Linked DNA regions of Homo sapiens: regions 1, 3 and 4 are each linked to region 2. The links come from fine-mapping of genetic effects on gene expression. A gene starts in region 2. Each other region holds a variant in brackets. All regions are shown on one strand. Distances are from middle to middle. Region 1 overlaps NXN (nucleoredoxin). Region 2 holds the start of NXN (nucleoredoxin). Region 3 overlaps NXN (nucleoredoxin). Region 4 overlaps NXN (nucleoredoxin).

Evidence for each region. PIP is the estimated chance that this variant, and not a neighbour inherited with it, causes the effect.
Region 1: its variant is fine-mapped to the expression of NXN in atrial appendage (GTEx, PIP above 0.99).
Region 3: its variant is fine-mapped to the expression of NXN in pancreas (GTEx, PIP 0.96).
Region 4: its variant is fine-mapped to the expression of NXN in whole blood (INTERVAL, PIP above 0.99).

The regions. Positions count from the first base shown.
Region 1 is chr17:892,224-900,347 of GRCh38, reverse strand. The region is part of intron 1 of NXN (nucleoredoxin); the gene reads left to right. Among named protein-coding and RNA genes, the nearest start is that of NXN, 83 kb to the left of the region's middle. RefSeq lists enhancers at 182-683, 1,187-1,827, 1,828-2,469, 2,379-3,578. The variant T/C (reference allele first, on the strand shown) is at 3,655.
Region 2 is chr17:975,557-983,680 of GRCh38, reverse strand. It overlaps NXN (nucleoredoxin), which reads left to right and starts at 3,905. Exons shown (of 8, transcript NM_022463.5): 1 at 3,905-4,362. The coding sequence starts at 4,003. RefSeq lists enhancers at 2,338-2,632, 4,057-4,992.
Region 3 is chr17:875,440-883,563 of GRCh38, reverse strand. The region is part of intron 1 of NXN (nucleoredoxin); the gene reads left to right. Among named protein-coding and RNA genes, the nearest start is that of MRM3, 97 kb to the right of the region's middle. The variant C/A (reference allele first, on the strand shown) is at 3,905.
Region 4 is chr17:912,485-920,608 of GRCh38, reverse strand. The region is part of intron 1 of NXN (nucleoredoxin); the gene reads left to right. Among named protein-coding and RNA genes, the nearest start is that of NXN, 63 kb to the left of the region's middle. RefSeq lists an enhancer at 1,563-2,080. The variant A/G (reference allele first, on the strand shown) is at 4,058.

The sequences.
Region 1 (8,124 bases), 83 kb after region 2:
TCTATAAAATGCTGTCTCTCTTCATGAGCTTTTTGGCTATATCTTCAGAAAGTTTGTGTTTTTTTTTCCTTTTTTTGTTTTGAGACGGAGTTTCGGTCTTGTTGCCCAGGCTGGAGTGCAATGGCGCAATCTTGGCTCACCACAACCTCTGCCCCCCCGGGTTCAAGCGATTCTCCTGCCTCAGCCTCCTAAGTAGCTGGGATTTCAGGCATGCGCCACCACACCCCGCTAATTTTGTATTTTTAGTAGAGACAGGGTTTCTCCATGTTGGTCAGGTTGGTCTCAAACTCCTGACCTCAGGAGATCCGCCTGCCTCGGCCTCCCAACGTGCTGGGATTACGGGCATGAGCCACCACGCCCGGCCCTCAGAAAAGTTTTAGTGTTAAACTCTATAGCTTGAGGATATCATTTACTTTAACAAAAGCCCTTTGATTTCCTTTGTGAAAATAATTAATTTAGAGACAGGGTCTCACTCTGTCACTCAGGCTGGGGTGCAACGACATGATCATAGCTCACTGCAGCCTCGAACTCCTGGGCTCAGGCTATCCTCCTGCCTCATCCTCCCTAGTAGCTGGGACTACAGGCGTGCACCACCGCCCCCAGCTTGTAAAATTTATCAACTGGGCAAGACCCTCCCTGCAGGAAGCTTTTTTTACTGTCTCCCAGGAAAAGAAACCCTGTACCTAAATCTCCGTAACAGAGAGGAGAGAAAGGAGGAAAGTGCGGAATCCGTGGTTTTGTTTTTTAAGGCTCAGCGCTAATTCCTGACGATATAATCATGAGTGAATCAGTCTTTGCCCTCAAGGAGCTAAATCTCCTTGCGGGAAAGAGAAGCAAGCTGTATCTTCTTTGCAGCTCTCAGTAATACCTGCCATTTTCTTGTTTATTGTTGTTTATTGATCGTCCTCCCTCACGAGAATATGAGCTCAGGAGAGCGGGCATCCAGGTGTCTCTCTCAGGGTCTTATTTTTTGTACCCAGCACGTCAATATTTGTTGAATTAATGGATGGATAGATGGAGTATTAAGCAAAGTAAGGAGACAGTTATAGTACTATTAATATAAAAGGTGCTGTAAGAAAAGCATGCACAGGCCGGGGTGCGGTGGCTCACGCCTGTAATCCCAGCACTTTGGGAGGCCGAGGCGGGTGGATCACCTGAGGTCAGGAGTTCAAGACGAGCCTGACCAACATGGTGAAACCGCGTCTCTACTAAAAATACAAAAATTAGCTGTGCATGGTGGTGGGTGCCTGTAATCCCAGCTACTCGGGAGGCTGAGGCAGGAGAATCACTTGAACCCGGGAGGCAGAGGTTGCAGTGAGCCAAGATCGTGCCACTGCACTCCAGCCTGGGCGACAGAGCAAGGCTCTGTCTCAAAAAAAAAGAAAAAAAAAAAAAGCATGCACAGAGGCAGAATCCCAGCCCTGTCCTTCCTTCTTTGCAGGGAGGGGATAGGAAGAAATGACTTTCAGAGTAGTTTTTTTGTTTTGTTTTTGTTTTTTTGAGACAGTCTGTTTTGTCACCCAGGCTGGAGTGCAGTGGTGCCCTCATGGCTCACTGCAGCCTCGACCTCCCAGTTTCAAGCAGTCCTCCCACCTCAGCTTGGAACTATAGGTGTGCACTACCGTCCTGGCTAATTTTTGTATTTTTTGTAAAGATGAAATTTCTCCATCTTACCCAGCCTGGTCTTGAACTCCTGGCCTGAAGTGGTCCTCCCACCTTAGCCTCCCAAAGTGCTGGGATTACAGGTGTGAGACATTGCGCCTGGCCTCAGAGTAGTTTCTCAGAGGAGATGGCGTCCGGACGAGTTCCTGACGGCAGAGTAAGAGTTAGTAGGTAAAGAAGATCAAAGCTGTTCCAGGCAGGGTGCTGGGATTACAGGGGTGAGACATTACACCTGGCCTCAGAGTAGTTTCTCAGAGGAGGTGGCGTCCGGACGAGCTCCAGATGGCAGAGTGGGAATTAGTAGGTAAAGATGGGATCAAAGGTGTTCCAGGCAGGGGAGCTGAAGAGGGGTGTGTCCCAGGAGAGCAGAGTGCATGGAACTAGGAAAGTGGTTCTCAACTGGGGCAGTTTTTCCCCCAGGGTTGTTTGTCCAGTCTTGGGGGGATGGTAAAGACCAGGAGTGCTGCTGGACATCCTGGAATGCACAGACCAGCCTCGACCAGGGAGAAACCATCCAGCCGCCAAGTGCTGAGGTTGAGAAACCCTGAGCCCCATGAAGACAGGAACAAAGATGAATGGCTGTGGGGAAGAAAGGCACAGCAGTAGGTGGGTAGTTACTTGAAAATTAAGCATTGCTTGACCAGCTCAATCCATGGAGAACTTTGAAGTGCACAATATCAAGTTATCCTTAAAATAATCTTAACTGGCCAGCAGCAGGGGTTCACACCTGTCATCCCAGCACTTCGGGAGGCCGAGGTGGGCGGATCACCTGAGGTGAGGAGTTCGAGACCAGCCTGGCCAACACGGTGAAACCCCATCTCTACTAAGAAAAAAATAGAAAAAGTAGCCATGCGTGGTGGCGGGCACCTGTAGTCCCAGCTACTCGGGAGGCTGAGGCAGGAGAACTGCTTGAACCTTGGAGGCCGAGGTTGCAGTGAGCCGAGATCGTGCCACTGCACTCCAGCCTGGGTGACAGAGTGAGACTCCATCTCGAAAAAAGAATAAAAGAAAAACAAATGCTGGACCGAGAATTCATTTAACACAGAGTTGACAGCACACTGAGGAAATCTTTGCGGATTGCCCTAGGACGGGGCATTGTGAAGCTAATAGGCAGTACTGTCTAATTTCTCAATTTCCTTTCAATAATAGCGGAACATGCCGGACGTGAATGAGGCCGCCCGGCATTTTCCTTCCCTTATTCAATTTACGTGCTGCCTTTTGACATCTGACTGATGTGGTAAGGATGCACCCCACCCTAGAACGTGCTTTCAAGAAGAAATTGAGTTTCTCTTAATCATGAGATCCATCTTGCTAATTGATTGTCCTGTAAACAGTGTGGGGCAGCCCATGCTGGCTTTGTTTCAGTGACGCTGGGGAAAAGCCACACGTCTCTGCTGTCATTTTGATGTCCACGCAGCTGCCTTTCCCATCTGGGTCACTGGAGGGTGGGAACAGCCCTTAACCTCTGCCTCCCTTTCCCAGGACAGAGCATTCGCCTCCCTGCAAGCCTGGCTCGGACTTGCCTGGGACCTGCCAGGAGCTGAACGTAGTTTTCTTTCTCCCATGGGAAATAATTTTCTTGGGCGCGGTGGCCGTGGGTTACCAGTCCCTGGCTGTCAAAGCTCACGCGTGTGTGACAGTGACGCTGTTGTTAGGCACGCCGGAGTTTCCATTACGGAGTCCGTGTATCTGCCGCGGGGACTTTCCTAGGAGAGGCGTCACTGCAACAGGCCTAGGAGGGGACTGGCTTGGGAAAAAAAGAAGAATATTGTGTGTGATATGCAGGAACTGAGAAATAGCGTGAGTTTGTTGAGGGGCCGGGGGCGGGTGGTCAGGACCGCGTGGTCCATTTTAGCATCTTCGAGATCTGCAGAGGTTCAAGTGTCTATTGTAGAGAATTTAGGGAAGCTTTGAAGTCGAGGAGAAGGTTCTATTACCAGAAACAACTCTCTGTAAAAACAGATGTCATCTGTCAATTCCACAAAAACTTCC[T/C]TGGGCCGGGGTGACTAAGATGAGAAGTGGGAGAACTGGATAGTTTAATAAATGTTTATATTTTACTTTAAAGCGAAGTTGAAACACGAAGACGATAGTTAACGTCTGGTAAGTTTATACGGTGTGCGAGGCAACAGGGAGAGGTACGGGAATAGTTCTACTTCCTTGTTTTTTATTCTTGTGTTTTAGACACAGGGTCTGCTGTGTTGCCCAGGCTGGAGTGCCGTGGCACGATCACAGCTCACTGTAATCTCAAACTCCTGTGCTCAAATAATCCACCTCAGCCTCCCGAGTAGTTAGGACTGCAGGCACACGCCACCATGCCTTGCTTACTTAATTTTTTTTTTTTTTTTGAGATGGAGTTTTGCTTTTGTTGCCCAGGCTGGAGTGCAATGGCTCGATCTCGGCTCACTGCAACCTCTGCCTCCTGGGTTCAAGTGATTCTCCTGCCTCAGCCTCCCGAGTAGCTGGGATTACAGGCATGCGCCACCACGCCCGGCTAATTTTTTGTATTTTTAGTAGGGACAGGGTTTCTCCATGTTGTCAGGCTGGTCTCGAACTCCCGACCTCAGGTGATCCGCCTGCCTCAGCCTCCCAAAGTACTGGGATTACAGGCATAAGCCACCATGCCCAGCCTATTTAATTTTTTTGTAGAGATAGTCTTGCTCTGTTGCCCAGGCTGGTCTTGAACTCTTGGCCTCAAACAATCCTCCCCACCTCAGCCTCCCAAAGCATTGGGATTACAGGTGTGAGCCACTGCCCCCAGCCCATCAACAGTTTGTAAAGCCCATTTTACTAAAAGATTCACCTTGGAAGATACTACATTGTTGAGAAGAATTAATGATGTTGGGAAAAATTAGTTTTTTTGTTTGTTTGTTTGTTTTTGAGACAAACAAAACCCAGGCTGGAGTGCAGTGGTGCGATCTCGGCTCACTGCAAGCTCCGCCTCTCAGGTTCACGCCATTCCCCTGCCTCAGCCTCCCGAGTAGCTGGGACTACAGGTGCCCACCACCACGCCTGGCTAATTTTTTTTTTTTGTATTTTAAGTAGAGACGGGGTTTCACCGTGTTAGCCAGGATGGTCTTGATCTCCTGACCCTGTGATCCGCCCACCTCGACCTCCCAAAGTGCTGGGATTAGAGGCGTGAGCCACTGCGCCCGGCCACATTGGGTCTTTTTAAACCAGAAAGTATTATTGTAGCAGCTTTAGAAGGTTGCTGAATTCTGTTTCTCCCCATACCCAGCTGTGTCATGGCAGCAGTCCCCATGGTGGTTTATGTTTGATCATCTCTCATTTTCTCTCATTTTTTTGCTTCTTTGGGTACCCTCTTTTCTTCCTCTCTCCATTAGAGAAGATGAACTATGAAGGGAAGGGGTGGGCCAGGCGCGGTGGCTCATGCCTGTCATCCCAGCACTTTGGGAGGCTGGGGCAGGCAGATCACCTGAGGTCAGGAGTTCAAGACTAGCCTGGCCAACATGGTGAAGCCCCGTCTCTACTAAAAATACAAAAATTAGCTGGGCGTGGTGGTGGGTGCCTGTAATCCCAGCTACTCGGGAGGCTGAGGCAGGAGAATCACTTGAACCCAGGAGGCGGAGGTTGCAGTGAGCCGAGATGGTGCCACTGCACTCCAGCCTGGGCGACGGAGTGAGATTTAGTCTCAAAAAAAAAAAAAAAAAAAAAAAAAAAAAAAAAAAAAAAAGGAAAGGGTGAAAGGAAAGGATGAGAGAGAAAGGCAATCAGGGAGAGCCAGGATTTCAGGGAATCATGAAGGCGGCCAGCGGGGACCTGGGTGTGCCCACGTTTCAGCCATGCAAATGCCTGAAGCCAAGTGGATTTAAAGTTGAGGCAGTCACATCTCAATTATGTTTTCAGATGGAAGGGGGTATTTTAGCAGCCAGTTTAGCAAAACTGGGGACCGTCTTCTTGGGGCGCCTCCGTCATGTCTCCGCCCGTCCCTGCGGACACCAGTGGCAGAGCTGCAGAGGCTGCCCCCGGCAGGACCCCCAGGTTCTGGGCATTGAGATGCTTCCTCTGGCTTCCAGGGTGCTGAGATGCTTCCTCTGGCTTCCAGGGCGTTTGAGATGCTTCCTCTGGCTTCCAGGGCGTTTGAGATGCTTCCTCTGGCTTCCAGGGCGTTTGAGATGCTTCCTCTGGCTTCCAGGGCGTTTGAGATGCTTCCTCTGGCTTCCAGGGCGTTTGAGATGCTTCCTCTGGCTTCCAGGGCGTTTGAGATGCTTCCTCTGGCTTCCAGGGCGTTTGAGATGCTTCCTCTGGCTTCCAGGGCGTTTGAGATGCTTCCTCTGGCTTCCAGGGCGTTTGAGATGCTTCCTCTGGCTTCCAGGGCGTTTGAGATGCTTCCTCTGGCTTCCAGGGCGTTTGAGATGCTTCCTCTGGCTTCCAGGGCGTTTGAGATGCTTCCTCTGGCTTCCAGGGCGTTTGAGATGCTTCCTCTGGCTTCCAGGGCGTTTGAGATGCTTCCTCTGGCTTCCAGGGCGTTTGAGATGCTTCCTCTGGCTTCCAGGGCGTTTGAGATGCTTCCTCTGGCTTCCAGGGCGTTTGAGATGCTTCCTCTGGCTTCCAGGGAGTTGAGATGCTTCCTCTGGCTTCCAGGGAGTTGAGATGCTTCCTCTGGCTTCCAGGGAGTTGAGATGCTTCCTCTGGCTTCCAGGGAGTTGAGATGCTTCCTCTGGCTTCCAGGGAGTTGAGATGCTTCCTCTGGCTTCCGGGGGTTGAGATGCTTCCTCTGGCTTCCAGGGAGTTGAGTTGCTTCCTCTGGCTTCCAGGGAGTTGAGATGCTTCCTCTGGCTTCCGGGGGTTGAGATGCTTCCTCTGGCTTCCAGGGAGTTGAGATGCTTCCTCTGGCTTCCAGGGAGTTGAGATGCTTCCTCTGGCTTCCAGGGAGTTGAGATGCTTCCTCTGGCTTCCAGGGAGTTGAGATGCTTCCTCTGGCTTCCAGGGGTTGAGATGCTTCCTCTGGCTTCCAGGGCATTGAGATGCTTCCTCTGGCTTCCAGGGAGTTGAGATGCTTCCTCTGGCTTCCAGGGGTTGAGATGCTTCCTCTGGCTTCCAGGGCATTGAGATGCTTCCTCTGGCTTCCAGGGAGTTGAGATGCTTCCTCTGGCTTCCGGAGGTTGAGATGCTTCCTCTGGCTTCCAGGCGTTGAGATGCTTCCTCTGGCCTTTTTTGAAGGCCAAGGCTTCTTTCCATTTCTTATGTCACGCTACTGAGCGATGGAGATAATTTTTGAAAAAGGGAAATCCAAGGAGGGCATTCTCACCAGAGTGAATATAGCAACCAAGGTGCTGTCTTTTAAGCTGGGACCGGAGGATTAGGCCTCTGTCTCCAGCCTCTGCCTAGGGTTTCCTGAGACTGGGCTCCATGCTTTCTCCCCTAAAAAGATTATCCCCCAGAGGAGTGTCCACAACCCATGCGCACTCAGAAAGCTCACCTTTTCCAGTCTCTGTCCAGGAACGTGGCCTGATACAACTGCACTGATTGACTCGTGGAAGTAACGAGAGCATTGCCCTGCTGGAGACTTGGCCTGCGTAGGCGTGTTCTCCCATCCGCATCTGCCAAGTGGAACAGCTTTGCCCTTTAGGGACATAGGCAAACGTCTGAAGACTTTAAATTTTTAATTGATAGACTTTGTTTCATAGAACAGTTTTAGGTTTTCAGAAAAACTGAGCAGAAAGTACAGAGTTCACAGGTACCCCTCCCTTGCCCTCCAGGTATTCCTGCTGTCATTACCATCTTGCATTGGTGCGCTACATTTGTTACAACTGAGGGGCTGGTATGGGTACATTGTTACTATCTGAAGTTCACAGCTTACCTTAGGGTTTATTGTTTGTGTTGGACACTGTTGGTTCTGACGAATGCATAATGAATGACATGCATCCACCAGGTTGGGATCATACAGAATTGTTTCACTGGTCTCAAAGTCTCCTGGGCTTCTGGAACCATTTTCGATTGTCACTAAGCGGGCATTACTGGCATTTCCTGGGACAGCGATGAACATTCTACAATGTGCGGAACAGCACCCCCCCACACACCCCACCCCGCCCCGCCCCTTCCCAGCAAAGTGTCAGCAGTGCTGAGACTGCGAGACCTGCTATGCAGACACTGACTTGCCAGGTGCGTTTGTGAGTGTTTTGTGGGTGGGGATGAGCTTGTGAGGCTCCAGTGCTGGAAACCTGGTGTTTGGATGAGGGGTGGCCTGGCTGTGCGGGGGCAGAAGAGAGGCACCAGGTGGATTTGGAGAGTCCTGGGAAGAGGGTCAGCTGTAAGTGAGAGGCAGCATTCCAGCCATAATCCCTACACACATTCCTGTAACTGTCACCGTCTTAAATTCAGAACATGAGGTCTGAGTCCAATTAAAATGCCCTAAGTTCTAATTGTTGGGCTGTGCATGGTGGGGTTAGCTTAGTTCCCTGTTGGGTTGTGCATGGTGGGGTTAGCTTAGGTTCCCTGTTG
Region 2 (8,124 bases):
CCCATTTACAGGATTTCAAAAGATGTCTAGTAACTATGTGTGTGTGTGTGTGTGTGTGTGTGTGTGTGTATATATATACTTTTTTTTTTTTTTTGAGATGGAGTCTCTCCCTGTCGCCCAGGCTGGAGTGCAGTGGTGCGATCTCGGCTCACTGCAAACTCCGCCTCCCGGGTTCATGCCATTCTCCTGCCTCAGCCTCCCGAGTAGCTGGGACTACAGGTGCCCGCCACCTCGCCCGGCTAATTTTTTGTATTTTTAGTAGAGACGGGGTTTCACTGTGTTAGCCAGGATGGTCTCAATCTCCTGATCTCATGATCTGCCCGCCTCGGCCTCCCAAAGTATTGGGATTACAGGTGTGAGCCACCTCACCTGGCCTAGTAACTTAATATATATGATATGAGTAGCTTTAAATGTTTTCACCAAGGCCGGGTGGTGGCTCATGCCTGTAATCCCAGAACTTTGGGAGGCTGAGGCGGGTGGATCACTTGAGGCCAGGAGTTTGAGACCAGCCTGGCCAGTATGGTGAAAACCCCGTCTCTATTAAAGATACAAAAAATTGGCCAGGCTTGGTGGCGGACGCCTGTAATCCCAGCTACTCCAGAGGCTGAGGCAGAGAATTGCTTAAACCTGGAGGGGCGGAGCTTGCAGTGAGCCGAGATCGCGCCACTGCACTCCAGCTTGGGCAACAGAGCAAGACTCTGTTGCAAAAAACAAACAAACAAAACAAAACAAAAAAATTAGTGCATGCCAGTAATCCCAGCTATTTGGGAGGTGGTGCATGCCTGTAATCCCAGCTACTCGAGAGGCTGAGGCAGGAGAATCACTTGAATCTGGTAGGCAGAGGTTGCAGGAGCTGAGATCGCACCACTGCACTCCAGCCTGGGCAACAGAGTGAGACTCTGTCTGTAGGGACCAGCCCCACAGGGTCAGTGGGTCTCTCCCCGTGTGCGGAGACGAGAGAGTGTAGAAATAAAGACACAAGACAAAGAGATAAAAGGCAGCTGGGCCTGGGGAACCACTACCACCAAGTCGCGGAGACCGGTAGTGGTCCCAAATGCCAGGCTGCACTGATATTTATTGGATACAAGACAAAGGGGCAGGATAAGGAGAGTGAGCCATCTCCAATGATAGGTAAGGTCATGTGGGTCACGTGTCCACTGGACAGGGGGCCCTTCCCTGCCTGGCAGCCGAGGCAGAGAGAGAGAGGAGACAAAGAGAGAAACAGCTTCCACCATTATTAGAGACTTTTAGTACTTTCACTAATTTGCTACTGCTATCTAGAAGGCAGAGCCAGGTGTACAGAATGGAACATGAAGGCGGACTAGGAGCGTGACCACTGAAGCACAGCATCACAGGGAGACAGTTAGGCCTCCGGATAATTGTGGGCGAACCTGCAGTCAGGCCCTCCACAAGAGGTGGAGGAGTAGAGTCTTCTCTAAACTCCCCCCGGGGAAAGGGAGACTCCCTTTCCCGGTCTGCTAAGTAGCGGGTGTTTTTCCTTGACACTTACGCTACCGCTACACCACAGTCCGCCTGGCCACGGGTGTCTTCCCAGACGCTGGTGTTACCGCTAGACCAAGGAGCCCTCTGGTAGCCCTGTCTGGGCATAACAGAAGGCTCGCACTCTTGTCTTCTGGTCACTCCTCACTATGTCCCCTCAGCTCCTATCTCTGTATGGCCTGGTTTTCCCTAGATTATGATTATAGAGCGAGGATCATTATAATATGGGAATAAAGAGTAATTGCTACAAACTAATGATTAATGATATTCATATATAAGCCTATCTAAGATCTATATCTGGTATAACTATTCTTATTTTATATTTTATTACACTGGAACGGCTTGTGTCCTCGGTCTCTTGCCTCAGCGCCTGGGTGGCCTGCCGCCCACACTGTCTCAAAATAAATAAATAAATAAATAAATAAATAAATAAAGTTTTCACTAAAAAGTGATGCTTTCTGTGTGTGTTTTATAATATTGTCCCTACAGTGGCACAGACTTTCAGCATGAAAGTCTCCTGAGAATTAAGGTGGAATTCGACTTTGCAGTAGGATTCTAGGGTGTTCGAAGGCGGTCCTCCATCTAAGATCTTACCTGTGTCATTAGCAATACCAGCAGGTGACTAAGGAAGTGGATATAACTTGTAGAGACGCCAGTCCACTTTCCGCTCCCATCTCCACCTCTCCCAATTGTTTTATATGGTAACATTTCACCAAGCTGGAACCCTGCACCATTCCTTATTCTACCCTAGAAAAACGGAGAACCTTCGATGTGAACACTTACGTTTTGTGCCAAAAGCTTGAAGTTCTATTCTGAGGTTTAAATTAGCTCCCGCAAAGCGTCCTATCATTTGTGTATGTGGAAAGCTGCTGTAAAATAAAAGCATTGTGCCTGGTGTCCCGGCAGTGTCTTTTCACAAATGGAGTTTGGTCGGCCTCATTTTTCACTCTTTCCATTAGGTGGCGATGGATGCACAGGAAATATCCTCCGAAGCGGCGGTGGAAGCTCTGAGAGGGGCGGGTTTTCAGCTTTTATTTTTTTGCTTTCGCTGAGTCGTCAGTAGCTGATCCACACCGGCGGCCTGTTACTGTGGCTGGGCCCGGATCTGCACCTGCTTCGTGCACCAGTGGGTTGGGTTGGGGGGAGGCGCTGCGTGGCCAGAGTACTCGCCACGGACCACCTGTTTTTTTGTTTTTTTTGAGACGGAGTCTTGCTCTGTTGCCCAGGCTGGAGTGCAATGGAGCGATCTCGGCTCACTGCAGCCTCCGTCTCCCGGCTTCACGCCATTCTCCTACCTCAGCCTCCTGAGTTGCTCGGATTACAGGTGCCTGCCACTACACCCCGCTAATTTTTGTATTTTTAGTAGAGGCGGGGGGGGGGTGTCACCATATTGGCCAGGCTGGTCTCGAACTCCTGACCTTGTGATCCACCCACCTCGGCCTCCCAAAGTGCTGGGAATTCAGGCGTGAGCCACCGCGCCCGGCCCAGACCACCTGTTTAATCCAGCTTCTCCCTAAGCATTGGGGAGCATCCTGCCAGCTGGTAGGAAAAAAAAAATCTCTAGAAATGTTCTCAACTATCCATAGACTTGACATGAGGATGGAGCGGATTCAGGAGCGCGGCCAGCATTGGTCTGGAGGCCCCGCGGCGTCCTTTGCATCCATTTGTGGGGCTGGAAGACAGATTCGCTGGGGGGAGAGGCCCCGGCGACCCCTGGACGGAAATCCCACACTGAGACCTGGCACCCTAACCAGACCCCACCAGAAGCTGCGAGGGCGTCCTCGGCCCCCTTAGAACAGCTTGGAACACACAGAGGAGTCAGTGTCCAGCCAGGCCCGGCCTGATGCAGTGAGGACGGCGGGTCCTATAAGCATCTCAGGGTCAGTGGGGCCCGGAGCGGCCTAAGGGTCAGGCTTCGTGCAGGGAGAGGAGGAGGGAAAGGCCGGGGAGGAACAGGAAGAGGGTGAAGAGCTCCGCGGGGAGGGGGCGGGATCCCTGGAGGTCTGGAGGGAATTTAGAACTGGGGAGGAGAGAAAATGCGGGCCGGGCTGCAGCCCGGGAAAGCGCCGGCTCAGCGGGCCCTTCTCCTTTCTTCACTTCGGCCGTGGGCTTTCCAGGGAGAGTGCGGCGTTTCGGGTCCGGCTTCTCGCCCAAGCAGTCACCCCGCGCACCGCGGCCGGCAGCTGCGGACCCCGCCTGGGCGGAGAGCTCTGGCCACCGCCGGCCGCAAACGGGGCGTGGCGAGGGCGGAGGGGGCGTGGCGAGGGCGGGCGGAGGGGCGTGGCGAGGGCAGCCGAAGGGGCGTGGCGCGGGCCGCGGAGGGGGCGTGGCAGGGCGGGGGAAGGGGCGTGGCGCGGGCAGGCGGAGGGGGCGTGGCGTGGGCGGCCCTACTGGGCCGGGCTCTGCTCTCCCCAGCGCCTGCCGCCGACGCCGCCGCCTCCTCCCGCCGCGCGGACCGTGGAGCGGGGTCGCAGCCGCCTGCCCGCCCTGCGGTGGGCCAGGATGTCGGGCTTCCTGGAGGAGCTGCTCGGCGAGAAGCTGGTGACGGGCGGCGGCGAGGAGGTGGACGTGCACTCGCTGGGCGCCCGCGGCATCTCGCTGCTGGGTCTCTACTTCGGCTGCAGCCTCAGCGCCCCCTGCGCGCAGCTCAGCGCCAGCCTGGCCGCCTTCTACGGGCGCCTGCGGGGGGACGCGGCGGCCGGGCCGGGGCCGGGAGCGGGGGCCGGGGCGGCGGCGGAGCCCGAGCCGCGGCGGCGCCTGGAGATCGTCTTCGTGTCCTCGGACCAGGACCAGCGGCAGTGGCAGGACTTCGTGCGGGACATGCCGTGGCTGGCGCTGCCCTACAAGGAGAAGCACAGGAAGGTGAGCGGCGCGGGCCTCGCCGGCCCCTGCCCGCCCCCCACGCCCGTTACCCCTGCCCGCCCCCCACGCCCGTTACCCCTGCCCTCCGCCAACCCCGTTGTCCCCCTGCCCGCCCTCCACCCCCCGACCCCTGCCCCCAGTCCCCCGCCCCCCGACCCACTGTCCTCTCCCCGCCCCCCACCCCGCCGTCCCCGCCTCTGCCCCCCCCCCTTCCGCGCTGTGCCCGCACCCTCATCCCAGGACCCCTCTTTGGTTCGAGTGCTGCGCTGCGCCCGCCCTGGAAAGTTGGACCCCCCTCGGCCCCCGGGATCCCGGCTCGAGCCCCTCCGTCCGCACACGCTGGGAGCCTCGGGTGGGGGCGGCTGCGCTCGGGGATCCCGGTTCCGCGACCCCTTCACCCGCGAGCAGAGGCGCCAGGCCCTTCCTGCCTCCGCCGCCGACCCCCGCGGATTCCCACAGTGGGGAGGGGAGGGGAGGGGAGGGCGCACGCCCCCCGCCCGTGGCGCCCAAACCAGCGCGTTTCCTTTCTTTCCGGGAGAAACCTGCCTTCCCGGAGCCCCTTCCCCGGGGACCGGGGACCTGGGGGCCGAGGCCGAGGTCAGGAGAGGCGGCCGGTGACCGTGGCCGTGGCTGTGGCCGAGAAGGGCGCTCACGGCTCCGTCTCCCGCCCCCGCCTCCCCCGCCCCAGGCTGAGTTCGCGGCCACCGGGGAGCTTTGCATTGTCTGGCCGTCCAGCCTCCTCCCCAGACGCCTCCCGGGCGCGGGAACAGCCCGGGCTGTGCAGAGCTCAGCTGCGTGGTGGCCCCTGTGGTCCCGGGGTCTTCGAGTTAAGGGCTGAGCTGACCCCATCGATGCACATTGACTGGAAGAAGGAGGATTTGGGGAAATGGATACTTTGCTGTCAACTTCTCGTGTCTCCCAGTTTGCTGCCGAGTTGAGTTTGGGTTTCTGAGTGTGTCCCTTGGGTGAGGATGTCTGTCTCTGTGATAATAAAGCACATCCAGGACATTTTGTAATGAATGGAGTCAGAAAAAGTTTTGGAGCGCTGTTGCTTCGTGAGTGTATATGATGCAACGTGTGAATCCAGCCCCTTTCCCTTTTTGAGGAAAGCCTGTTTCTGGAGTGGACAGAAGGGCTATTCTGGGGGCGTTTAGTTTCCTCTGGGGAGCATGGCGAGGCGTGCCACGTGTTCCTTTTATATGTGCAGAATCTTGTTGAGAAGCATGATTTAGATTTACTGGGAGCAAAAGGCTTACACTGTGACCCCAAATGTCTTGAGTAAATCATCCATCCCGAAGCAGTGGGAGGTAGAGATTCGAGATTTAAAGTATGAAATACAGTTGATCCGATGCAGTTTGTAAATTTCATATTGGGAAAACATAGGTTCACTAACCACTCAGAGGCAAGAGTTGGCATTTTTACTGCTTTTTAGGTTATTTTGCCCATTTTGATTGACATGCTTGATATAGTATGAATATGCATGGCCAGTACTTTTTGATTCAAAATACGAGAATCCTTTGTTTTCCTTGGTGGTGGTTTTTGTGATACGTTCGTGGAGAAATAATGTTCAGAAAGGGATTTGCCAAAAAACATTTTCATTGTTACGGCAAGTTTCTGTTGTAGACTAAAGTCTACTTAAAATAATGTCCTTATCCGGCAATACAAATGATTTCTAGCTTTTGAAAACATAGAATTATGGTAAAATGTTACAGGCTTAACAGCCTATTGTTGTGTTTTTTACTGAAGAGGAAATACATTTTTTGGATAGTAAAAATATGGAGCAAACAGATGTTTTGCAAATGCTTAGAGCTTTTTCCGAAAAAGGAGAATATTTGATAGGACATGGGCCATGGCTGGCTCTCTATACCCTGGACAGGCTCTTTGCATGACAAAAAGTATTCTGCGGCCCTAGCCTGGACCTGCTGATTCCTCCATGATGAGAACCTGGATGACACAGGGCAGACTCTCATTTGAAAATACCGTTGAGAGTGCTGGACGTGCCCAAACCCTGGTGCGTTAGCATCTTAAACATTTTATTTTTTGGCCCAGAGTTTTTCTGACTCACATCCTATACTTTATTCTCTAAAACCAGTCCAGTTTTCAAGGAGGTAGTTTCTTTCCTTGGTCGTGAACAAACCACTCAAGATCTTTCTCGGGGATATATACCAGGTAAAAAGACTCCAGCTGTCCTTCTTATGGAACACATACTCTTGGAAATTACAAAAGCTACGTGCTGATTTTAAAAGGAATTATTGCCGGGTGCGGTGGCTCATGCCTGTTATCCCAGCACTTTGGAAGGCTGAGGTGGGCGGATCACCTGAGGTCGGGAGTTCCAGACCAGCCTGACCAACATGGAGAAACCCCGTCTCTACTAAAAATACAAAATTAGCCAGACCTGGTGGCGCATGCCTCTAGTCCCAGCTACTAGGGAGGCTGAGGCAGGAGAATCGCTTGAACCTGGGAGGCGGAGGTTGCGGTGAGCCGAGATCGCACCATTGCACCCCAGTCTGGGCAACAAGAGCGAAACTCTGTCTCAAAAAAAAAAAAAAAGGAATTATTTTCCCCCTTGAAACCAAAGAGATGTGGAACAAATGCCTTTTCTGTAACTGAGTTTTTGTCTCATTTGAAGTTAGGGTGCTTAGAAGCCCGTGAGCTAATGATGCTAATTTCCCCATCAGAACAAGTGAAGAGCCGGAGTTCTCCCAGCTGAGGGCACTGGATGGGTGAACACGTCTTGTGGATGGACTCTATCCGTGTCATTTCGCCAATGATAAAAATAACTCTAGAGAAGGGAATTTTGTTTTACACTGAAGGGAAACCAGAGTTCCAGATTGCTAATTTTTTTTAAATTCTCATTAACATTTGTTCTTTAAGCCCATGCGTATACTTCTTCCCATTGGGATAACAAAGGGTATGGTTCTAATTAGTTATTGGCTGGCATTTCTCTAAAGAAAATTGAAAAATTATGGTGGGGAAAGAAAATGCTGTGTGGTATTTCTTTTTTTCTTTTATTAATTTCTCCTTTATATAGTTAAAAAAAACCTGGGGATGACCGTATATGTTAAGCCTGCATTTTGCCTGGTTCCTCTCACCTTGACAGGAACTGTGAGAAAACACCAAAAAAAAAAAGGACAAAAATGTAAAAAAACATTCTTTATACAAAATTGTCCTGTTTCTGCCTGTTGTCATGGTAGGTACAAAAGTAATTGAAGCTTAATTTTTTTGGCTTCCAAAACACATATTATTTCAGCTTCCAAAACACACATTATTATATAGCTGTGCATAAATTGTAATTAGATGGTAATAGAACTTTGAGAGCATTTATAACAATTTCATCAGCAAATCTATAATCCTGAAGTTAAGGCAGTTAGACTTGTTTTAATAAGTAGGTTGGTAGATGATTTTCACATTTCTAGAGAGAAGGAATGTGATCGATAGTCAGGAGGTGGTGAAATTTGGACTTTGGGGATTTGGTCTTCCCTTTGGATTAGTATGTTACTCACTCGTCAAGACTGGAGAGGTCCGTCTCCGGGATCCACTTCAGCCTCATAGAAGTGAGCACTCTTTTGGTGTTAAAGTCGCAGAGCTCAACTTTGTCTGGGCTGGATGCCTGATCAAAAACATATGGTCAGTGTGGGTGCACTGACATCCAAGGGTGCAGACCACTGGCTTCCTCTGGACAGTTTTGTGAGGCTCTGGTGTGGCCCCAGGACTTCCTGCATGACAAAGGGGAAGAGAAAGTCTGCAGAGTCAGGGGACCCT
Region 3 (8,124 bases), 100 kb after region 2:
TCATCTCTCTTGGGAGGAGCTTTGGCTTCTTAGCCTGGCATGTTTTTGGCCAGCTTCTTTCTTTCCTTAGCCTGAGGTCATGGAGGTGATGTAGGCGGGGTTTGGAGCTGTGGATGGAAATTTGAGGCCTGTGCTGGTTCAACTCCAAGAACAAAGACTACTTTGACAACAGCCAGTGAGCAGCTTCTGCTGGGAGTTCTGGGCGGGGGGCAGGGGTGGGAGGAAGAGAGGCCTCTGTGAACAGGGTGTTTCCATGTCTCAGAAACAGATTCAGTAAGAGACAGTCAGCATCGTCTTCCCCCAGCCTTTCCCTTACTGGCCTGATTGACACCGTCGCTGTCTGAGTTGTGGAGAGAGAAGGAATGGGCAGGAGAGATAGGAAACAAGGCCCTGGTGTGTGTTTTTTTCTTTCCATTTAAAAATAGGAAGTTGGCCAGGTGTAGCCTTCCCCAAGTAGCTAGGACTCGAGGTGCACGCCACTACACACAGCCAAGTTTTATTTTTATCTTTTAGTGGAGACGGGGGCTCACGCCTGTAATCCCAATGCTTTAGGAGGCCAAGATGAACAGATCACCTGAGGTCAGGAGTTCCAGACCAGCCTGGCCAACATGGTGAAACCCTGTGTCTACTAAAATTAGCTGGGCGTGGTGGCGGGCGCCTGTAATTCCAGCTACTAGGGAAGCTGAGGCAAGAGAATCGCTTGAACCCGGGAGACAGAGGTTGCAGCAAGCCAAGATCGCGCCACTGCACTCCAGCCTGGGCGACAGAGCAAGACAACGTCTCAAAAACAAAACAAAGAGGCCGGGTGCGGTGGCTAACGCCTATAATCCCAGCACTTTGGGAGGCCAAGGCAGGCAGATCACGAGGTCAGGAGATCGAGACCATCCTGGCTAACACGGTGAAACCCTGTCTCTACTAAAAATACAAAAAATTAGCCGGGCATGGTGGTGGGCGCCTGAAGTCCCAGTTACATGGGAGGCTGAGGCAGGAGAATGGCGTGAACCCGGGAGGCGGAGCTTGCAGTGAGCCGAGATTGCGCCACTGCACTCCAGCCTGGGTGACAGAGCGAGACTCCATCTCAAAACAAAACAAAACAAAACAAACAAAAGAAACCCCTGCAATTGAGGCAGTTGGGGCAGAGACGGGGGAGGGCTCCGCCTCATTCAGGAGCTGTCTAGGAAGTGACTGAGCAGAAATGAGGAAGAGAGAAGCATGGGGAAGGACTGCCAGGTTTCTGGTTTGGGGACACTGGGTGGAGGGTAGTTGGTTCCATTCATGGAGACAGGGAACCATGGCAGGGAAAGGCAGGGAGGGAGGGAGGGGAGGTGGTCACTTGTGGGAAGGTGGCCGTGCTCAGGAGGCAGCACCCTGTGCCCACGCTGGAATTCTCAGTTACCTGGCTCTAGATGAGATGAAGACAAATTATTTTTTTCTCCTTCTTGTTGGTATGAGTTCTTTTTTTAGGTTTAATTTAACACAATAAAATTCATGGTTCTTAAGGACCCAGCTCAGTGTGTTTGAACAGCTGTTATACCGATATGAACAATTATCCAAACAAGACCAAGAACATTTCCATCTCCCTGCACAGTCCCCTGCTGAGCCTCTCTGGTGACTCCCCCTCCCATCCGTCGCTTTGGTTTTCTGTCACTGTAATTTAGTTTTGCCTGTAGACCGTCATGGAAATGGAATCGTACAGTCAGTGTTATTTTGTGTCGGGCTTCATTTGCTCAGCATGATTGTGAGGTTTATCCTTGTTTTTGTATACATCAGTTTGTTCCTTCTTATTGCTGAGAAGTGTCCCATTGGACGAGCATCTTGTCACAGTGTATCCATTCTTCCAATGATGGATGTATGTGAGTTGTTGTCAGTTTGGGGTGGGGAAGGCTGTTATAAACATTTTTATGGACTTAAAAAAATTATCTTGGGTAAATACTGATGAGTAGGAATCCTGAGCGGTAGAATTCTGAGTCGATTATCAGGTAAATGAACATTTACCTTCATAAGATGGACCAAACGGTTCTTCAAAGTGGTTGTACTGACCAGGCATGGCGGCTCACGCCTGTAATCCCAGCACTTTGGGAGGCCAAGGCAGGCAGATTTCTTGAGCCCGGGAGTTTGAGACTAGCCTGAGCAACATGGCGAAACCCCGTCTCAATGGAAAATTTTCGAGTGTGGTGGTACGCGTTTCTAATCCCAGCTACCCGGGAAGCTGGAGGATCACTTGAGTCTGGGGTGCTGCGGCGAGCTGAGATCGCACCACTGCACTCCAGCCTGGGTAACAGTGAGATCCTGTCTCAAACAACAACAAAGTGTTTGCACCATTTATGTCCCCGGCAGCGGAGTGTGAGACTCGCACTTGCTCCACGTCCTCACCCGGGTTTGATACTGTGGGTGTGTTTTACTTTTGCTATTCTAGTCAGTGTGAAATCATTTTAATTTGCATTTCCTTGATGACACCTTTGCATATTCTTACTGGCTGTCCACCTATCTACTTTCTGGACGTGTCTGTTCATATCTGCTTGTTGAGAGTGTGCACTCCCAGAGCCTGGGCCACGGCTCAGCTACCTGCCGTAGATGGGGCAGGAGGGAAGGAGACGTTTGCAGAGATTTGAACCACAGGAACCAGTCAGCCCCTTGGAGCCCTGGCCCAGGCTGTGGGATTTTCGGAGGAGGCCTTCCATTTTCATCTGTCCTGTTATCAAACCAACTGCATTACTTAGTGTCTGCTTGGAAGTATCTGTCCTTCGCAGTCAGCTTACTCTTTTGGCCAAAAGGAAGCTCTGCTCCTAGATATGGATAAGGAATTTGACAGATCTCCAGCCCTGCCCCCTTAGGAGAAGGCCAGCCCCTCTGCTTCTTCCCCTGTGAGTGGACGTCCTTGGATGCATTAGCTCAGGCGAACTTGGAAGATTCTGTGGGTTTTGTGTGGCCTATTTTGAGTCTCATTGTTTGGCTTTAATCAGAAAAATAAACACTTATTTTTAATTTTCTCCCTGGCCTGGCTGAGCTAGGTTCAAACGATCTTTTTTAACTTGACCACATGTGAATGACCGGAAATGATGTCCTGTTGGGGAAATGGGTCATTTCCAAGATTTTCTCTCCAGGAAAAGTGTAACTTATTAGTTTCCTAAGAAAGGCTCTAACAGGCCACAAAGAAGTTCTTATTAAGACGTTTTCTCCTTTTATGTGGTCCTAATCACAGCCTTATCACAAACCCCAGCCCTGGTTGTTAATCCAAGGTATTTAGTTCTTGTATTTTATATACAAGGAAATAAAGAGACGCCTCCCTCACTCCTCCGCCCCCGGAAATAAAGAGACGCCTCCCTCATTCCTCCGTCCCCAGGAATGATTCGCCCAAGGGTGGGTGTTGTCTCCGGGGACCAGGATCAGGAATTACGCCCTGAATAAGGATAAAGACCTTTTTTCCCTTCACTGAAACAATCATTTTAAAAAATTTGCTGTGATCTCACTTTTTTATTTTAAATTCCTTTAATGAAACCTCACCCTCAAACTTGATACATCAGAAGATTTGCTTGGACTAAAAGTGGAATTTCCATCTTAACCACATGGCTCCGAGGTTCTGCTCTCAGGATGAATTGGGCTCCATGTCATTTTGTTTGTCACTTTCTTCTCGGACCAGCGCAGTGGCTTCACCACAGTGGGCACTGTGGTTGGATTCCGTACCTGTGAGAGAAGTTTCTAGAATCCTTTGGCTTGAAATACACATACTTGGCCACATTCTTTCTTCTGAACCGTCTTCTGTTGCCGCCCCCTGCCGGAGGCTAGAAAGAGACACCTGCAGAAAAGCTCCTCCCACCAGCTCTCCTCCCAAGATGCAGAAAGGTGACGCCCGCCAAACCCCAGCGGGTTCCCAAGAGGCCTTTGTGTTGGACGCCTCCTGCTT[C/A]TCAGTCAATGAGTCGTGTCCTTTCCCTGCTTGCCAGAAACCTTTAGCTCCACGGGTTTAAAACCAGACTCGTGGCCGGGCGCGGTGGCTCATGCCTGTAGTCCCAGCACTTTGGGAGGCCGAGGCGGGTGGATCATTTGAGGTCAGGAGTTCAAGACCAGCCTGGCCAACTTGGTGAGACCCCGTCTCTACTAAAAATTCAAAAATTAGCCTGGCATGGTGGGCGCCTGTAATCTGAGCTACTTGGGAGGCTGAGGCGGGAGAATCGCTTGAACCTGGGAGACGGAGGCTATAGTGAGCTGAGATCGTGCCACTGCACTCCAGACTGGGTGACAGAGTGAGACTCTGTCTCAAAAAAAAAAAACAAAAAACCAAAAACCAAAAACCAAACCAAAACAAAAAAAACCCAGATTCCTTTCCCTGCTCTTCACTAGTTTTTCTTCCGCTTTGTTCTCTCCTTCTCCTTCCCTCTCTGTCTACTTGTTGTTTTTTTTGAGACAGAGTTTCTCTCTTGTTGCCCAGGCTGGAGTGCAATGGCGCGATCTTGGCTCACTAAAACCTCTGCCTCCCGGGTTCAAGTGATTCTCCTGCCTCAGCCTCCCGAGTAGCTGGGATTAGAGGCGCCTGCCACCACACCTGGCTAGTTTTTGTATTTTTAGTAGAGAGAGGGTTTCGCCATGTTGGTCAGGCTGGTCTTGAACTCCTGACCTCAGGTGATCCACCCACCTCAGCCTCCCAAAGTGCTGGGATTACAGGCGTGAGCCACCGCACCTGGCCTGTCTACGCATTCTTTCATTAATTTGTTCTTTAAACACATATTAGAGCTTTTAACTGGCTCTGCGTGTTTTTTTAGGCTCTGGTTATGAATAGGGTCTCACTGACGCATCTACCCAAGCTACAGGCCTTGACATTCTCATTTCCCCCCATTCACTGGGTTCAATCAGGTTGGGGCACTATTGTTTCACTAGTCCCTTAATGAGTCCACCAACTTCCAGTCTCACCCTGTCTACACAGCTCCCAGAACAACCTGGCTACAGTACCAGTTGTTCACGTCACTGCCCTATGGGCCAGCCCTCATTACGGGTGGATCCAACCCAAACTCCCTGGCGTGGACTTCAAGGGCACCCCCTCCCCTGCCCCCAAACCCCACCTTCAAGGGCACCCCCTCCCCTGCCCCCACACCCCACCTTCAAGGTCCCCCCACCCCCGCCCGCAAACCCCTCCTTCAAGGGCACCCCCTCCCCCACCCCCAAACCCCACCTTCAAGGGCAACCCCTGCCCCGCCCCGAAACCGCACCTGGCCTTCTAGCATCCTCACCTTTGCACACTCTGCTCAGCCACACTGGTCGACCCCCAGGGTCCCCAGACACATCGCCCATTGCCGTACCTTGGAACCTTTGAGCATGATGGCCCCTGCTCCTGGGATTCCCTCCGCTTCTTCTCTCTCCGATGAGGTTGTGTACTAATGTCAGCTGTACACGTTGTCTTTTCAGCATGTTACCTCCTCTCAGAAGCCTGCCCCCACGCTGTGCAATGGTCGCTGTGCAGATCTCTGTTACGGCGTCATTGCCTGCATTCTACTTAGCTCTCGTCTGTCTCCCCTCCAGACTGTGCCCCCAGGGCTTCCAGGTCTAGCCTCATTTCTAATAGTTTGTTGCCACGATGTCACGAATTAGAGCCCTGTCTGTTAGCCCACAGGGCTCCAGCCTCACCCTCTCCCACAGCTCCCGTGGCCCTCCTAGCAGCCTTCAGAGCTTCATGGTTCACAGTCTGGAAAAACGTGTGCTGAGCTCTGCCTGCCTCTTGCTGTTTCTTGGATGCCTCGCCCTATCCCACTCCTGGCCTGCCTGGTGAAAACCGGTTCATTCTTCACAGAGCAGCTCAGACGCTACGGCCTTTCCTCTTCAGTCGCTCTAACTCACAAGGTTAGATGGTAAAAATAACGAGTATTTTGTAAAGCACTGAGCGTGTGCCCCAGACATTGTTCTAAGCATCTTCCCCGATTTCCTCTATGTGCCAGTAGTATCGCGCTTTTCCTGTATCCTAATAGTTTATGTACGCGTCCGTCTTCCGTATGGGGCTGGGCCTTCCATAAAGGAAAGAAAGGCTCGTGTATCAATTATCTTTCTGTTCCCAGCCTTTAGCACAGGGCTTCACACGTAGAAGGAATCCAGTAGTGGCTGGTAAATGCAGCTGTTTGAAAAACACAGTCGCGGCCGGGCGCGGTGGCTCACGCCTGTAATTCCAGCACTTTGGGAGGCTGAGGCAGGTGGATCACGAGGTCAGGAGATCGAGACCATCCTGGCCAACATGGTGAAACCCCGCCTGTACTAAAAATACAAAAAATTAGCCGGGCTTGGTGGCGGGCGCCAGTAGTCTCAGCTACCAGGAGGCTGAGGCAGGAGAATGGCATCAACCTGGGAGGCGGAGCTTGCAGTGAGCCGAGATCATGCCACTGCACTCCAGCCTGGGCGACAGAGTGAGACTCCGTCTCCAAAAAAAAACAACACCGTCGCTGTTCCCATAGTTGTTTAGTACGTTTGTTTAATATATTAAGAATTAGTTTTTTTGTTTGTTTTCGAGACAGAGTTTCACTCTGTCACCCAGGCTGGAGTGCAGTGGTGCAATCTCAGCTCACTGCAACCTCTGCCTACTGGGTTTAAGTGATTCTCCTGCCTCAGCCTCCCGAGTTCACACCATTCTCCTGCCTCAGCTTCCTGAGTAGCTCGGATTACAGGCGACCGCCACCATACCCGGCTAATTTTTTGTGTTTTTAGTAGAGACGGGGTTTCACTGTGTTGGCCAGGCTGGTCTCGAACTCCCGACCTCAGGTGATCCCCCCGCCCCCGCAGCCTCCCAAAGTGCTGGGATTCCAGGCGTGAGCCCCCGCGCCCGGCCAAGAGTTAATTTTGATGACATAGAATGTGCTGGGAGCTGGTGCCCCAAAGGGAACCACAAGGAGTTTCCCGTATAAATGAGGAATGAAGATGGTATTCTAGTGTGAAAGTAATTATCAGCGAACGACACTAACAGCGCTGTTGAGCTCCCCGCCCAGTGAGACTGATTCCTGGGCTTAAGAGAGAATCTCAGAGTACATAACTCTTACTTCCTACTCTCCAGGTGCTTTCTTCATTGATGGGGAGACGTACATGAAACACGCTTAGAGCAAAGGACGCCTAGCGTGTTCTAAATGACCACAATAGGGGATGTGGTCATGAGCCGGATTGGGAGTCCTGTACGTCGTAGCCTGTGTTGACTTCCTTGAGCACCGTTGTTCTTAAGTCCCTCTGTCACCTGAAATTTCAATAGCTTTTTTGACAACATGTGAGATTGAGTGTCTTAGTATTCACTTTGGGAGCCTGCCTTTTTTTCTGGGCACCTGCATTTCCTTTCTTTTCTTTTCTTTTCTTCTCTTCTCTTCTCCTTTCTTTCTTTCTTTCTCTTTTCTTTTCTTTCTTTTCTTTTTTTTCTTTCTTTTCTGATGGATTCTTACTGTGTCGCCCAGGCTGGAGTGCAGTGGCACGGTCTTGGCACGCTGCAACCTCCACCCCCCCAGGTTCAAGCGATTCTCCAGCCTCAGCCTCCCAGGTACCTGGGATTACAGGTGCACGCCACCACGCCCGGCTAATTTTATATTTTTAGTAGAGACGGGGTTTCACCCTGATAGCCAGGATGGTCTTGATCTCCTGACCTCATGACCCGCCCACCTTGGCTTCCCAAAGTGCTGGGATCACAGGCATGAGCCACTGTGCCCGGCCTAAAAAGCTTTTGAAAGTAGCCAACACCTGTACTCCCAGCACTTTGGGAGGCCGGGGCAGGAGGATAGCTTGAAGCCAGGAGCTTGAGACCCCCTGAGCAACAAAATGAGACCGGGTTCTACAATTTTTTTTTTTTTTTTAATTTACCAGGCATGGTCACATGTGCCTGTAATCCCAGCTACTTGGGAGGCTGAGGTGGTAGGATCACTTGAGCCCAGGGAGTTGGAGGCTGCAGTGAGCTATGATTGCACCACCGTACTCCAGCCTGGGCAACAGAGCAGAATCTTAAAACAAAAACAAAAACACCACAACCAAAACAACAAAAAAACCCTATTTCATTTCACACTAGTCTGATTCGATCTTCTGCTCTTAAGTGTGTAGTGAGGCAAATTAAGACTTTTGAGATAAGAGACCCAGGTTTGAATTCTCTCTGATTTATGATTCAGTGATTTAACCAGGCAG
Region 4 (8,124 bases), 63 kb after region 2:
GAGACCCACCCTGGGCTAGGGCATACGGATGGCGAATGAACCTGGATGAGCGTCGAGGGTTGAGAGCCTGGGAGAACGCTGCAGAGCTGGAGTGAGCTGGTGAGGGCTGGTCACTTGGGGAGGGAGCGGAACCCTGGGAGGAGAACGCTGGAGGAATTGGGATCAGGCAGGCTCGGCATCCCCAAGGCTACATTGGCCTTGGGGCATGACAGGAGGGCCTAGGTATCCCCAGGCGCTCGGGGCTGGGAGGAGAGCCACATGGGCACCTCATCGGCCCCCTTGGCTGAATTTGAACAATCACTTGATGTTGACGTTGCCAGATTCCTCCAGGTCAAAGCGGGAGCCAGGGGCGGGGGGAGATGACAGGAGGCAGCATTGATAAGTTTGTAATGTTGGATTTCGGGGTGTAGACTGGGCGTGATGGCTCGTGCTTGTCATCCCAGCACTTTGGGCGGCTGAGATGGGCTGATCGCTTGAGCCCAGGAGTTCAAGACCAGCCTGGGCAACATGGCGAAACCTTGTCTCCACCAAAAATACAAACATTTGCACCGCGTGGTGGCTCGAAGAGAGTTGGAGGCGGAGGTCCTCACATGGAGGAGGCCGTGGAAGTGGGTAGTTGCTCTGGATGGGTGATGAAGGCACCAAGGGTGCCGGTGGGGGCTGAGGCAGAGAGAGATGGAAGGTACATTTTCCGCCATGGCCTGGGGGTTAGTGAATACCAGTCTGCAAGGTGACAAGAGGGAGGTGTAGCTATGTAGCTAGATGAGGTCGCATACCAGTGTGGTCCGCCAAGATTGAATGATGGAAGGGAGAGCGTTTCCTGGTGTTTTGTGCCGGACCGCTCTGCCCCTAGTTGTATTTTCTGGACTGCGTTCCAATATTATTTTCAGTTGTTGTTCTGGAGCCACGCACTGCCTGGTAAGGGCTGATTGGTGTTGTCTCTGTCTCCCACCTTGAACCAGAGCCCGTGTCTGAGGGCCGCGTGGGACGAATGCGGGGATTCCGAGGACGACGTAGGTTCTGTAACCCACGATACGAGGAGGTGCTGTAGAAAGCCGTTTGACTGCGTCCTCCCAAAACTGCCACTTTAATTTCTGGTTGTGCTGAGATTACAGGGCTTTTTCCTCGTGTTACAATAACACGTTTTCTAGCATCTTAAGGAATGATTGCCCTGCATTGACAGAGTATTGTAATAAAAGCTGTTTAATTGGAATAATCATTCCAGAACCTTTTTTTTGTTTTGTTTTGAGACAGAGTCTCACTCTGTCACCAGGCTGGAGTACAGTGGCACAATCTCGGCTCACTGCAACCTCTGCCTCCCTAGTTCAAGCTATTCTCCTGCTTCAGCCTCCCAAGGAACTGGGACTACAGGTGCCCGCCATGACGCCCGGCTGATTTTTGTATTTGTAGTAGAGACGGGCTTTCACCATGTTAGCCAGGATGGTCTCGATCTCCTGACCTCGTGATCCACCCTCAGCCTCCCAAAGTGCTGGGATTACAGGTGTGAGCCACCGAGCCTGGCTGAAACATTTTTTTTTTTTAAAGCAATAGGGTCTTACTCTGTTGCCCAGGCTGGAGTGCAGTGGTGCAATCATAGCTCACTGCAGCCTCAAACTCCTGGCCTCAAGTGATCCTCCCGCCTCAGCCTCCCGAGTAGCTGGGACTACAGGCGCACGCCACCTTGCCTGGCTGCAGAGACATTTTTAATGAGGAAGGAGGCTGTGGAAACGTAGTTTAACTTACTTTGTTTTCTGAGTCCTTAAATTCACCAAGGATTCAACAAACACCCGCCCCCCCACCCCCGGCCTTTTTTTTTTTTTGAGACTGAGTCTCTGTCTCCCAGGCTGGAGTGCGGTGGCGCGATCTCAGCTCACTGCAGCCTCTGCCTCCCGGGTGCAAGCGATTCTCGTGCCTCAGCCTCCTGAGTAGCTGGGATTACAGCCGCCCACCACCGCGCCTGGATAATTTTTGTATTTTTAGTAGAGACAGGTTTTCATCGTGTTGGCCAGACTGCTCTTGAACTGTTGGCCTCAGGTGATCCGCCCGCCTCGGCCTCACTTTCTGGGATTACAGGCATGAGCCACTGCGCCCGGCCTCAACCAAACCCTTTTTAAGTCAAGAAATTAAGACAAAAAGTAGCTGGAATGAAAGTGAGTGATTGACTCGGGAGCCAAATGGAAATGGGAGTCACGGCCTCCCTGAGCCCAGTTCACGAAGGAGATGAAACGCTGCGATGAAACTCGCTGATGGATCGTGCGCTCCTCCCATTTCCTTCCGACCCTCCCGCCTTTTCCTCCAAACCGAACGTTACAAAGGAAAATAATCTTAATCAAGACCAGACCCCTTTGGGCCCAGGGTTCTGGGGCTGTTTCTGGCACAACGGCCAGGCCCAGCACAGCCTGGTTTGTGATTGTTTGATTACAGGAGGAAAATGCTGTGTTGTTTTGGGGGAGGTGATATTGAGTGTTCTCGTGTTTCTTTTGTCTGTTTTTGGCCCATCTTCTTAGTAGGATCATGTTATGAGTTATTTTCTGGTTTAGACACACAACTTTTAAAACTGAAACTGAGATTTCCTTTATGCTGCAAATACGGAGTGAGTTTTTGTGATGTGCCGGGCCCTGCCGTGAGCCATGTGTCTTCCATAAAGTACGAGCTCAGTAAACATTTTATTATTATCCATTAGGGGTTCTTGTCAACAAAACTGAATACAGACCACATTCTTCTTCACCAGTACGCAGTCCCCTTTGTTTGGAACGGGAGTCCCCCCTCTCCTGTCGCTTATCCCCTTTCCCATCCGCCCTTGTCCCCACCTCTGCGAGGCCTTCCTGGGGAGCGAGAGCCACGCCCGCCTGTTGTGCCAGTACGCGCCCCTTGTAGGGCTGGAACCTGGGGTGTCCGTCTAGGAGGTCGGATTGGGTAGGGAAGCTCGCCTGCAGCGGGTGGCCTACATTGGGTTGAGATGGTGACGTGCGTCTGAGCCACGTCCTTGTGGGAGAGCTGGGAATCGAGCCTGTAGACACCAGTGCTAAGTTCAAAGAGTGGGTGGAGATAAAAAATGGGCGTAGGGTGGGACAGCAGGTCCAGAAGGAAGAGGAGGAGCTGGTGTGGTTTCCACAGACGACAGTGTGGGGCTGCTCTGTGAGTTTAGGTTCATGAGTAAAGATGTGAGCGGCGGCTCCCGCCTGTTCTTTCAGAGGCCCAGCACTTTCAGAGGCCAAGGCAGGCGGATCACGAGGTCAAGAGATTGAGACCAGCCTGGCCAACATGGTGAAACCCCGTCTCTACTAAAAATACAAAAAATTAGCTGGGCATGGTGGCGGGCGCCTGTAGTCCCAGCTGCTCGGGAGGCTGAGGCAGGAGAATCGCTTGAACCCGCGAGGCGGAGGCCACGGCGAGCCGAGGTCGCGCCATTGCACTCCAGCCTGGGCTACAGAAAAAAAAAAAAAAGATGTGAGCTCAGGCGTGGAACACCTCATTCCTTGGTTCACTTAGGAACAGGGAATCTTGTTGGAGGCAAAGCGGATGTTTGATTTGTAGCTTCAGCATGTATAACAGAACAGGACACACAGGGAATGTCTGATAATGTGATTAATGAATGAAGATAAAGACCCACCAAAAATACCCACCTTCAAGGTGGTTTGAAAATTTACAACGAAGAGGTTAGGGTGGTAACTAACCTAGAGGCCTGTTGGTTGCTGTAATTTTTTTTTAGAGATGAAGTTTCTCTCTGTTGCCCAGGCCGGAGTGCAATGGCATAACCTCAGCTCACTGCAACCTCCACCTCCCGGGTTCAAGTGATTCTCCTGCCTCAGCCCCCGAAGTGGCTGGGATTACAGATGTCCGCCACCACACCTGGCTAGTTTTTTGTATTTTTAGTGGAGACCTCAGGTGATCCACCTGCCTCGGCCTCCAAAAGTGCTGGGATTACGGGCGTGAGCCACCGTGCCCGGCCAGCTGCTGTAATTTGTGAGCTTAATGTTAAAATCCTGAGTGCTTTGCAGGGATCCCTGGGATCCCCAAACACTTAAAACTGATTCCTTGGATATTTACAGTAGCT[A/G]CTGCAGCTGGGGTGCAATTTCACATTTTACCAGGAGGGACTGTCTGAAATCTCCTTCATTTTTAAGTTTTGGAATGTGTTTATATTTATTTTCCTTTTTTTTAGTTTGGTAACTTTGAAATGTCATACGTTAATTTTACGTAAAACAAGGGATTTGACTTTGACTCATTTCCAAAAGGCCCCTTGCAGGGAAAATTGTCTTTTAAATTGTTTTAAATAATCTCATTTTCAGCAGGAAGAAGTAGAAAGGATAAAATGGATCCTGCACCACGGGAACCTCACAGCACCTCACTCCTTGTGGCTTTTCCTGTTTGATACTCTGCTTTCTGAAAGATGCAATTTTCTGCCTCCATTTCTGTTGCCGACGTGCCAGGATTTCTAGCAAAGTGGGCCTAGAGTTTTGCTGGAGGTTACTTTTCCTTGGAAGCAATTCAAATACAATCATCATTCTGTTTCTCCCTTTTCATTCGACATTTGAGTAGAACAATGGCTTGGCAGCCAGACAGGCGCTCTTAAGAGCTTCAGTGTTTTTATCTTTGCCTTTTGAGAAGTGCCTTTACAAAATGTGGTTTAAAATTGAGCCTACAAACAAAAACACAGAACCGATTGCTTGGAGACCAAAACTCTAGGGACAAGGACAAAAGAACTGGGAGAGGGGGAGCAGCTGGAAGTTCCAGCTCTGACACCATAAGTGGCCGCCCATTTTAGGGGAAGTTTCGGCTCTGACACCATAAGTGGCCGCCCATTTTAGGGGAAGTTTCACCTGGAAGCCCCAGCTCTGGCCCCATAAGTGGTCAGGCATTTTAGTGTTGCACTAACTGGTCTCTGCCTTCTTGGTTTATTGCCAAGTTTCCAGCCCTGGGGTATCCTTGTTATTTACTTTCCTCCTGCACCAAAGCTCGGAAGCGTTACACTATGTACTCATTCATTCTCACTTTTACTCCTTTCTTAGAAATAATTTCCTAGAGTCCAGGTGTGGTGTCTTATATCTGTAATCCCAGCACTTTGGGAGGCTGAGGCAGGTTGATTGCCTGAGCCCAAGAGTTTGAGACCAGTCTGGGCAACATGGCAAAACCCAGTCTTTACAAAAAAATACAAAAATTAGCTGGGTGTGATGGCACACTCCCGTAGTCCCAGCTACTTGGGAGGCGGAGGCAGGAGGATTGTCTGAGCCCAGGAGGTGGAGGTTGCAGTGAGCCGAGATGACTCCAGCCTGGGCGACAGAGTGAGACTCTATCTCAGAAAGAAAGAGAGAAAGAATTCCTAGAGGTCATGCTAATCATAATCCCACTTATTCTCAACTATAAAATCCTCAACTGGCCGGGTGCAGTGGCTCACGCCTGTAATCCCAGCACTTTTGGAGGCTGAGGTGGACCTATCACGAGGTCAGAAGTTCGAGGCCAGCCTGGCCAATATGGTGAAACCCCATTTCTACTAAAAATACAAAAAATGAGCTTGGCGTTGTGGCGGGTGCCTGTATTCCCAGCTATTTGGGAGGCTGAGGCAGGAGAATCTCTTGAACCTGGGAGGCAGAAGTTGGAGTGAGCCGAGATCGCACCACTGCACTCCAGCCTGGCGAGCGAGACTTTGTCTAAAAAAAAAAATCAACTCTGAAATTTTTCCAGTACAAGTGTCTGCGATTTCACCCCCTTTAATATTTTAGGAAAACTCATCTCACTTGCTTGCTTTATTTGCCTGTGCTGTTGGTTCCACGCACTCATCAGCTCCTCCAGGGGAAGCCCTGGTTCCCCACATCCAGCTCCGCCTCCTCTACACCCAACAGTCTTGCTTCCCACATCACGGTACGCTCCCTGTTAACTCGCTTGCTGAGTTAATGACCTCACTCAATGGACTGTGGACTCTTTGAAGGTCAGAAGCGAGTCTCTGCTCCTCATCTTTGTCTCCGCCTGGTTCGATGCTCAGCACAAGGTAGCATTTCATACATGTTTGTTGAATTGTGTATATTCCTGTCTCCTCTAGGAACCTTGCTTGCGCTACCAATTACAGACCTCGGTGTTTGCCTTTGACCTTGCCTCTACTGTCTCATTGCATACTTCTCGCCTTAAAAAGAATCTTCCTTCTGGCCGGGCGTGGTAGCTTGTGCCTGTAATACCAGCACTTTGGGAGGCTGTGGCGGGTGGATCACCTGAGGTCAGGAGTTTGAGACCAGCCTGGCCAACACGGTAAAACCCTATTTCTACTAAAAATACAAAAATTAGCTGGGCGTGGTGGCGGGTGCCTGTAATCCCAGCACTTTGGGAGGCTGAGGTAGGCGAGTCACCTGAGGTCAGGAGTGCGAGACCAGCCTGGCCAACGTGGCGAAACCCCATCTCTATTAAAAATACAAAAATTAGCTGGGCGTGGTGGCGGGCGCCTGTAATCCCAGCACTTTGGGAGGCTGAGGTAGGTGAGTCACTTGAGGTTGGGAGTTCGAGAGCAGCCTGGCCAATGTGGCGAAACCCTGTCTCTATTAAAAATACAAAAATTAGCTGGGTGTGGTGGTGGGTGTCTGGAGTCCCAGCTACCCGGGAGGCTGAGGCTGGAGAATCACTTGAACTCAGGAGCCGGAGGTTGCAGTAGGCCAAGATTGTGCCACTGCACTCCAGTCTGGGCGACAGGGCGAGACTCTGTCTCAAAAATAAAAATAAAAATAAATAATAAAATAAAAATCTTCCGCGAGTTTGGGAGGACACGCCGTTATAATGAATGTCCTTGCACTTAAGTAAGTGAGTTTATGCCAGTGTAGATGGAAAGGGCAATTGTTTACACATTTTTTTTCTGCTTCATTTTTGTCTGCTCTTTTACTACAAGGATAAGAAAGAGCAGGTGCCAGGAGAGAAAAGTCATCTGAGAAGGGTCCCGGTCTCTGCATTGCCTGGGGACGTGGGGGTAGGTGGAGAACCTGCCTCTTTATCGGTTCCCGGTCTCTGCATTGCCTGGGGACGTGGGGGTAGGTGGAGAACCTGCCTCCTTATCCTCTTTTCCTTTGGTCTCTGTTGTGCCACGATGTCTCTGGGAAACTGACCGACTCTCCTTTCTCAGCCTGTTGCTCTCTGTCTGTCGTGTTGAGGAGTCTCTGCTGTGGGCAGGGGCCGACATCTTCATCTGTGATCACTTCTGTGTTGAAACAGCTAAGCCAGCGCTAGAGGCAAAAAGGGTTCCCAGACTCTGGAAAACTGACAAGCGAATGGACTTTTCAGACTCCAGGAGAAAATGGGCCATCCTGGGCTGTGGGGGTGCTCTGTGGATGAGTTCTGTCATTTGGGAGCTGGCAGTGGTTTGGTGATCAACTGTTGGCTTTTCCAGATTTTACAAAATCGGGAAGGATTTTTGGTGACTCATGAATTTTCTGTTCAATTTTACTTCTCCTAATAAGAAGTTAGCCTCTATTTATGTTCAGAGAATTAATCTAGATTTTATTGGTGACTATAAAAGAGATGACTGTAATATAAAACTTCTATATGGTCCAAAATACCAGAAACCAGATCAAATGATAAACCCTAGGGTGAGAAAAGATATTTCCAACGTATATGACAGAGAAAAGTGCTATTTTTCTTTTCTTTCTTTCTTTTTTCCGTCCTTTCCTTTCTCTTTTCTCCTTTCCTTGTTTCACTCTGTCGCCCAGGCTGGAGTGCGGTGGTGCAATCTTGGCTCACTGCAAGCTCCATCTCCCGGGTTCAAGCGATTCTCCTGCCTCAGCCTCCCGAGTAGCTGGGATTACAGACACGTACCACCACGCCCGGCTAATTTTTCGTATTTTTAGTAGAGACGGGGTTTCACCATGTTGGCCAGGCTGGTCTCGAACTCCTGACCTCAGGTGATCCGCCCGCATCGGCCTCCCAAATGTAATCTTCATGCTGGGATTACAGGTGTGAGCCACTGCCCACTGGCCTGTTTTTTTTCTTAATGCATAAAGAGCTTTTAAAATCAATTTGGGTAAAGAATTTGAACAGAGAAAGACACATAAACATGAAAAGATGCCTGGTTCTGTTTGCAATTAAAGAAGTACAACTTTTGAAATATGTGATTATTAAACTGGCAAAAGGAACATTTGATAACATACAGTG